Linked DNA regions of Homo sapiens: region 2 is reported to be linked to region 1. The links are microRNA targets in miRTarBase. Many come from high-throughput screens and were not tested one by one. Region 1 holds a microRNA gene; the other region holds the end of a gene's coding sequence.

Evidence for each region. Region 1 holds the annotated microRNA hsa-miR-5089-5p (GUGGGAUUUCUGAGUAGCAUC, at 1,506-1,526, opposite strand). A microRNA usually pairs through its seed, bases 2 to 8, with sites in the 3' UTR of a target mRNA and lowers its output. Matches are read on the target gene's strand: a 7mer-m8 pairs with bases 2 to 8, a 7mer-A1 pairs with bases 2 to 7 and ends in A, and an 8mer does both.
Region 2: the mRNA of MTRFR is a reported target of hsa-miR-5089-5p. Seed matches in the 3' UTR shown: 7mer-m8 at 1,168-1,174, 7mer-m8 at 1,304-1,310 and 7mer-m8 at 1,480-1,486.

What each region holds. Positions count from the first base shown.
Region 1 is chr17:46,970,162-46,974,552 of GRCh38, reverse strand. MIR5089 (microRNA 5089) reads right to left here and starts at 1,536; the gene lies at 1,453-1,536. It also overlaps a transcript of LRRC37A2 not described here and a transcript of GOSR2 not described here.
Region 2 is chr12:123,256,092-123,260,482 of GRCh38, forward strand. It overlaps MTRFR (mitochondrial translation release factor in rescue), which reads left to right. Exons shown (of 3, transcript NM_152269.5): 3 at 722-1,869. The coding sequence ends at 940. Among named protein-coding and RNA genes, the nearest start is that of CDK2AP1, 14 kb to the right of the region's middle.

The sequences.
Region 1 (4,391 bases):
CCGTGTTAGCCAGGATGCTCTCGATCTCCTGACCTTGTGATCCACCCGCCTCGGCCTCCCAAAGTGCTGGGATTACAGGCGTGAGCCACCGCGCCCGGCGGAGATGACCTCCTTTGCTCCCCACAACACATTGGTAAGAGGAGCAGATGCTCCTCTAATTTCCTGTTTATAGGAGAGGAAATTAAGATTCTGTTTACTGATCTTGTCCAAGCTCATTCATTCCACCGGTGTCTATTGTAAATCTCCTGTGGGCTAGGCACTGTGCCAGGCACTGGGTGAGCAACGGATGGCAGACCTAGCGTCTGGCCCTGGCCAGCGCCCCAGAAACCCTGGCACTTGCTTTGCTCCCCAGGTAGCTGGTTCCATGCGTCTCAGGGCCTAGGTCAAATCCCCCACATCCTGTCCTCTGAGTCGGGGATAGTACTTCTGGGGTCAGCTGTGCCTTCACCAGCAAGATGTCCCCTAGAACGGGGGAAGTAGGGAGGGCTTACATCACCACATCCACTTACTTTCTTACTTACTTGTCTAAGCCAAGTTCACATAGAGGGGTGCACGGCTGTGGCTGCTGGGGGTCGCCCTCCCCAGACCCCAACTCAGTAGTAGATGGAAAGAAGCCTTGAGCTTTGGGGGTGGCTTCAGAGGCAAAGAATGGAGCATGCGAGGTGGCGGGTACAGCAGAAATGGCCCCCATCCAGCATTCCAGTTTGGGGGAAAGGTATACGTGTACACATGTGTCGCACGCATGCACACACATTTAATAAAAAGGACTTAAGTGGGATTTCCGAGTAGTATCTCTTGAGTGCAGATTCTTGTCAAGAAAGCAAGATTCTTTCTTGTCAATAAAGATCACAGCAGATACACGGGGTGTCCAGGACAGCAAACCCCAGCTCGGCAGACGGGGCAGGTGTCCCAGCCTCTGAGATGACAGCATTGCGGGGTGTTCTGAGGCAGCGCCTGCTCACCCTTGCAGTCATAGTTCTATTACTTAGACTTGAGATCCCATGATAAGTGCACTCCAGTCCATGGATAAGGAGAGTTTAACCCATGGGGAACGCTAGATCTCAACAATTTTCAACAACGAAGCAACAGAGGCTAGGTGTGGTGGCTCATCCCTGTAATCCCAGTAATTTGGGAGGCTAAGGTGGGCGAATCACTTGAGCCCACGAGTTCGAGACCAGCCTGGGCAACACAGTGGGACCCCCATCTATATGGCAAAAAAGAAAAAAGAAAAGAAAAAGAAAAAAGCAGCAGCAGAGTGAGAGTGAGCAAGCCAGCTGTCATATGAGATTGTCATCTGGTTGTGTGGTTAGATAATGGGCTCAAGGTCACACTCAGCTAATGAGTGGCAGAGGCAGTGGGTACAGCAGAAATGGCCCTCATCCGGCATTCCAGTTTTGGGGGCAAGGTATACGTGTACACATGTGGGTTGCACACATGCACACACATTTAATTAAAAGGACTTCAGTGGGATTTCCGAGTAGCATCCCTTGAGTGCAGATTCCAAGGATGCTACTCAGAAATCCCACTGAAGTCCTTTTTATTTGACACTTTCCCACCTGGCTAAGTTAGAGGGAATACTACAAGAAGTTTTACACTCCTAATAAACTTGACGTACAAGACCTAGGTTTGCATGTCAGTGCCAGTATTTTTTAGGTGTGTCTTATGTCGCTCTCCTAATGCTGGGTGCTAAGGAAGTTGCAGAGGTGAAGGCAACTCAGGCTCTGCCCTCGAGATGCTAATAATATGACTGCAGAGACGCTCGTCCACACGGGAGATTGAGTGCTGCCATCCTCTGTGCCTCAATAATTTCTTTTTGGGTAGCCAGCGTCAGCCAGTGGGGTACAGGGTTTGGGGCTACAGAGCAGCTGTAAACCCGGGTTTCTCCTGGGGCTCACTTTGCAGGGGAGTGCCTGGGCAGAAAGCCCGGGACATGGAACCTGTATGTTGACAGCAATGCAGCCAGATGGGCAGAGGCCAACATCCGTCACCAACGGTCACATTGTGCAGACTGCTGGTTCCCTGCTGAGCTGGGGAGGCTGACAAACCTGAATTCCACCTTGTGCTCCAAAGCTGAGGTTCAGCAAGGGCTCGGGGTGCCCAGTGTGCAACCCTTTGCTGGGAATCCTTTCCTGTCCCAGGTTCTCCTTCCCTCTTGGCCAAGAGCCAGAGCTCCTTGCAGGGACTTCTTCCCACTATAGCTGGACTAGAAATGAAGAAGGGAGAGGAGGAGGAGGAGAAAGAAGGGGGAAGAGGAAGCATATGAAAGGACAGCAGGGAGAAGATGGGATGGAAGGAGAAGGGAAGAGAGGAGGAAGAAGCGGGTGGCGGGAGAAGCAAAGCAGGAAGCCAGGGTCTCGCCTCCTGCCCCAGCCCAGCCCCAGGGTTCTGTCAGCACACAGCCTGGGCCCAGCACAGTGCCCACCACAGCAGGCTGTCCCCTCCGGGTGTCTCTATAGAACATAAAGCGGGGAAGCAGCAACACTGAGGGTGATTATGGTTGAGACAGTTCCCTGTCTTGGGAAGGTCCCCCCTCTCCCCCACGTGCCCTGTGCCCTCTGCCTACCCCACCAGCCCCAGGCCTGGCTGTAAGTGTGACCCTTCCTCAGAGCCAGGCCCTGTGCCCTGCCTTTCTCTCTACTTCCTAAAGCTTCCCCCTTGCCGGGGAGGGAGAGGTGCCCAACAGGTGTGGCCCAGAACACAGAAGAAAAACATGCACACAGAACAAACACATGTTAGATGGGTGAGTGGGGGCCTGGTGAGGTGTGCACAGAACCACAGAGCTTGAGGCGTGAGAGACAAGTCTTTGATACAGGCAGGTCGGGGTGCAGGACTTCCCTCCACACTTTCCAGTCATCAGAGAAAGTCGCTTCACCTTCCAAGGCCTGTTTCTTCATCTGTAAAGTGAGGTACTCTAGCTGAGCTCTCTAGGTGGTTGGAAAGTTTAAGTGAGAAAGTGCATGAAAAGCTCCTACATGTACATACATGTATTCATGGAGCCATGCAGCTTTGCCAGGATCTGTGTGGGGTTCAAGGTCAGCAAAGGATATAGTTAGGCCAGGCTAGGGTGGGGCACTGGGTCACAGAGCCCCTAACCCAGCACTGGAGGAGAGCCAAGCCATGCCAGGACCTTGACTATCAGCTCAGAAGAGACTGCAGAAGCCATGGAGTGTGTCCTTATTATATTTTTCCTTTTTAATTAATTAATTAATTAATTTTGAGAAGGAGTCTCGCTCTGTTGCCCAGGCTGGAGTGCAGTAGTGCGATCTCAGCTCACTGCAACCTCTGCCTCCCAAGTTCAAGTGATTCTCCTCCCTCAGCCTCCCAAGTAGCTGAGATTACAGGCACCCACCACCATGCCTGGCTCATTTTTATATGTTAGTAGAGATGGGTTTTCACCATGTCGGCCACGCTGGTCTCAAACTCCTGACCTCAAATGATCCACTGTAAGTGCTGGGATTACAGGCATGAGCCACCGCACCGGCCTATGTTTTAAAGCGATGATACAAGTAATTAACATTTATAGCAACAAAAAAAAGAAAAATGTTGGCAAACAGTAGCCACATTCCTGCAACCTAGAAGGAATCACTATTAATCCTTTGGCATGCAGCCTTTCATATTTTGAGGGATCGATAGAATTAGGTTTGAGATTTTCTCCAGAAAATGTTATTCTAGCATATGCACCACTTTGAACGTATACCGTGATACTGTTTTTCACTTATCAGTGTATGATGACAAAGGTTCATGTCAGTAACTAATATCCACATAAGCCATCCTTCTCAGGCTTGTACCTGGTTCTCTTTTATGCAAACATCACTGATCCCCTATTATGGGGCATAATGCTGTTTCCGGGTCTCTGAGCCCCCGTCCACGTGAGTGGAGCGGCTCCAGTGCACACCCCTGCCTCGCAGACAGGCTTTGATGCAAAAGCTCAGCTGACGACTGATTGTGGCTGGAGTCCTCATGTTGCAGCGTCTCTCCTCTGCTGTCTTGAGTTTTTTTTTTTTTTTTTTTTTTTTTGAGATGGAGTCTGTGTCGCCTGGGCTAGAGTGCTGTGGCTTGATCTCGGCTTGCTGCAACCTGTGCCTCCCAGGTTCAAGCAATTCTCCTACTTCAGCTCACAAGTAGCTGGGATAACAGGTGTCCACCACCACTCCCAGCTAATTTTTGCATTTTTAGTAGAGACAGGGTTTCACCATTGTGGCCAGGCTGGTCTTGAACTCCTGACCTCAGGTGATCCACCCACCTCGGCCTCCCAAAGTGCTGGGATTACAGGCGTGAGCCACCGCGGCTGGTCTTTCTTGAGATCTTTTTGCAGGAAGCATCTTAATGCTTTAGGATGGAAGCTGTACCTGTTTTGAGATGATGGGGGAGATGAGGCAGGACAGCCGTGG
Region 2 (4,391 bases), not on the chromosome of region 1:
TTGCAAGGCACTCACCCTATAATAACTGAGGCATTACACAGTGAATGAGTTATGGCTGACTAATAATAAAGATGCTATTTTCTTCCTTCAGACAGAACTTTATGCTTATGAATGGTGCACACAAAGTGGTTGTTAACTGGCCACAAGCTAGATACATCAGTTGATACTTTCATAATTATTTTGCGACTTTAAGTTATTTGAAGGCCACTGTTGCTTCTAAACAAAATAGCACTCCTAATGATTAAAACAATCACACTGAAAGCCACATAATACAGCAAGGGTATGGGACACAGGGCAGAGGCAGGAAAGGGGCTGGTCTTCACTGTCACTGACTCATGGGGACTCCTGATAAGGGGCTTTGCCATCCAGGTTTGTCCCTCTCTATAAAGCGAACAGGTTGTCCTGACCAGCCTGGCCAACATGGTGAAACCCCATCTCTACTAAAAATACAAAAATTAACTGGGTATGGTGGCGTGCGCCTATAATCCCAGCTACTTGGGAGGCTGAGGCAGGAGAATCACTTGGACCCAGGAGGCGGAGGTTGCAGTGAGCCAAGATCACACCATTGCACTCTAGCCTGGATGACAAGAACGAAACTCTGTCTCAATAAATAAATAAATAGTAAATAAAAAAGCGAACAGGTTGAATTTAATGACTTCTGAGGTCCTGTCCATTTTTAACATCCTGTGGTTTTCACATTATAAAATATTATCTCTTACAGTGCCATCAGACAAGATCAGTTGATCAGAACAGAAAGCTAGCTCGGAAAATCCTACAAGAGAAAGTAGATGTTTTCTACAATGGTGAAAACAGTCCTGTTCACAAAGAAAAACGAGAAGCGGCGAAGAAAAAACAAGAAAGGAAAAAAAGAGCAAAGGAAACCCTGGAAAAAAAGAAGCTACTTAAAGAACTGTGGGAGTCAAGTAAAAAGGTCCACTGAGAAAAGAATTAGAGATTCCAACTGACAGAATCTGCCAGAAGCTCCCAGGGAATAATGGTGGCGAGTTCCATCACCAGCATTATTATAGTGCTTCAAAAGAAATATTTTTGATGAACTTAAAAGACAACAAATTTATTTAAATGGTGCACTAAACTGTAGTGAACAGAGACATGCACGATTCAAGAATAAAACTCGGCTGGGCACGGTGGACGGTGCCTCACATCTGTAATCCCAGCACTTTGGGAGGCCGAGGCGGGCGGATCACTTGAGGTCAGGAGTTTGAGACCAGCCTGGCCAACATGGTGAAACCCCGTCTCTACTAAAAATACAAAAAATTAGCCAGGCATGGTGGCGGGCACCTGTAATCCCAGCTACTCGGGAGGCCGAGGCAGGAGAATTGCGTGAACCTGGGAGGCGGAGGTTGCAGTGAGCTGAGATCGCGCCACTGCACTCAAGCCTGGGCAACACCTGGGTGACAGAGCGAGACCCCATCTCAAAAAAAAAATAAAACTAGTTCAAGTGCAATGACACACGCCTATAATCCCAGCACCTTGGGAGGCTAAGACAGGAAGATCACCTGAGCCCAGGAGCTCAAGATTGCAGTGAGCTATGAACACCACTGCACTCCACCTGTCCACTTGTTCTTGTGTGACAGAACAAGACCCTGTCTCTAAAAAATAAGATAAAACCATAAAGAAACACAGTCAGTACTATACAAGAATAATGGCTACTTCTAGAGGGAAGGAGTTGTCATTGTGATGAGGCACTTGGAGGGGTTCTGGGGTGCCTGACAAAGTTCTGTTTCTTCACCTGGGTGGTAGTTAGAAGGGTGTCCCCGTATTTCAAATTGTACCTTTGTGAGATTGTATGTTTTGTAATAATAAAATTTTTTTTGTAATTAGTAAAGTCAATTTTTATGGAGAACTGGAGAATGGAGTCAAACATTAATAGCATTTCTTGGCAACTTGCCATCTGCTGGGAAGCTGCTGCCCAGTGACACTTAAAAGTCAGTTATCCCCATGTCAGCTCAAGACAGTAAGAGAAAACAAGGGCCGGGCATGGTGGCTCACGCCTGTAATCCCAGCACTTTGGGAGGCTGGGGCAGGCGGATCATGGAAGTCAGGAGTTTGAGACCAGCCTGACCAACATGGTGAAACCCCATCTCTACTAAAAATACAAAAATTAGCCAGGCGTGGCAGCACACGCTTGTAATCCCAGCTACTTGGGAGGCTGAGGCAAGAGAATTGCTTGAATCTGGGAGGCGAGGTTGCAGTGAGCCAAGATTGCGCCATTGCACTCCAGCGTGAGCAACAGAGCAAGACTGTCTAAAAAAAAAAAAAAAAAGAGAGAAAATAAGAGGGTTGGAAGAGCTAAAGGCTCTGTTCCTTGTCCATGTGCTCTATTAGCTTCTAGGCTGTATGATGCCCAGTTGTGCCTCTGATGTAGAAACAAACACATTCCCTGCACGTTGATTTGCAAGATTTGTAAAGGTGAGGTTCCAGAATCTGATTTGCTTGTAAATTTACGTCACTTAAGCTGGATTTTACCTTACAGTTGTTTTTCTTTTAAAGCCATGCTTTATAGCTTGGCTTGTTAGAACTCTTCTGGAGTCCACGTAGAAAACAAATAGGGAAAAATGCTGAGAGGTGAGAAAGCCATTGGGAGATTGCCAGTTGCAGGGCCTCAGTTGTGCAGTCTGTCCAGCAGGCCTAGGCGGCATGTCCAGTAGGCCTAGGTGGCATGTCCAGTGCATACATCCAAGCACACCTTTCTCTTTGAGGCTGCCAATGAAGGCTCTTCTCACCTCAGTGACAGCTTTGGATGCTTACACATTCAATGCAGGGCTCATTCTACACCTCCTGTTGCGAGTGTACAGGACCCTTCCCCAGCCCAAACGCCCTGTAGAAAATAAAGGCTCTAGAACAACACCTAAGAAACCAGTAAGAGTGGGAGGGGAAATTTGGAGCTGGAGATAAGGGAGAATGGTTTCCGTTTGTCTCCTCTCTCATACCTTTGCAACTTTCTGCCACATGCAGGAAGGGGACACAGCACCCATTTCGCTAGAGCCTGTTCCTGCTGGCCTTCAGCCTTGTCATGGCTGAGAATTCGCCTCATGCCTGCATCAAAGAAAGACAAGTCTCTCTCATTTGTCTTTGTCTACTGCTCAGCAAAGCAAATTCTCATTGCAGGTATTTAGGGCCTAAGGTATAGAGTAAGAATTAAAATCCCTTTGGGAGGCACTGTCAGAGACCACCACGTGGACTCTCAACACATCCAGTGCAGCCCATTTTTTCCCTGGCACCAGAGCAGATAATTCTTCCAGTGAGCACCATATGAAGTAGCTTGAAGTTAGGAGCCGTACTTTATGAAAAAGATTCCTGTAGCACCCACCAAAAGCCCACAGGATAAGCACCTACGAACTGAGAATGGCCTAACCATGGGGTAACAGGCCAACTCAATAATACTGCTTCTGGCCGGGCGTGGTGGCTCACGCCTGTAAACCCAGCACTTTGGGAGGCCAAGGCGGCTGGGTCACCTGAGGTCAGAAGTTGGAGACCAGCCTGACCAACATGGTAAAATCCCATCTCTACTAAAAATACAAAAATTAGCTGGGTGTGGTGGCACGCTCCTGTAATCCAGCTACTCGGGAGGCTAAGCTGGGAAAATCGCTTGAACCTGGGAGGCAGAGATTGCAGTGAACCAACATCAAGCCACTGCACTCTAGCCTAGGCAACAGAGGGAGATTCCATCTAAAAAAAAAAAAATTTTTTTTTTAAAAACTGCTGCTGCTATTTTTTTTTCCTAGCATACACTTAAGTTTGCTGCACTTAAAATACACCCATAATGCAACTTCACTTTATCCCTACCTCTGACTTAGCAAACACATTCTTTCCCCAGCCAACTGTGCTAATGATATCACCAAAATGTTTCCGTGTCAGATGGGAAAATACAGTTTGAACAGGCATCTCCTACCTCTTGTAAAAGGTAAAGTAGAGGTTCCTCTCCAAAGACTTTCCTCCCCATTTAATTTGGAATAAACGGTAACTTCTCTTCGAAGCAAAATTTATTCAAAGACCTGTGCTAACATTCCTAATTATCTGCTAGCCGTGGTAAAGAAATCAATGTACTTTATGTTCTTAGCTCCCACAATTTAGCCTAAATATTTGTCCTGGCATGCTTACACTGGTCGGAGCAAGCATTAGGTCATAGCCTGTTCCTCTTCCTTATTTAAAAGTGTTTACCTTTCTCACCATTCCACAAGTTACTTTCTCCTTCCTTTGTTCTCTTCTGCCTTCGCCTCTTTTAAAAAGTTTTAAGTTGCTTCCCAATCAGGACAAATACAGAATATGAGGTCCCGTTCCAGCCAATGGAAACCGGACACAGCAGTAGGGTGGACGCATCAGGTTACAAATGACCCTGTCTCTTTGTTCGGTGTACTCTCGTGGCAAAA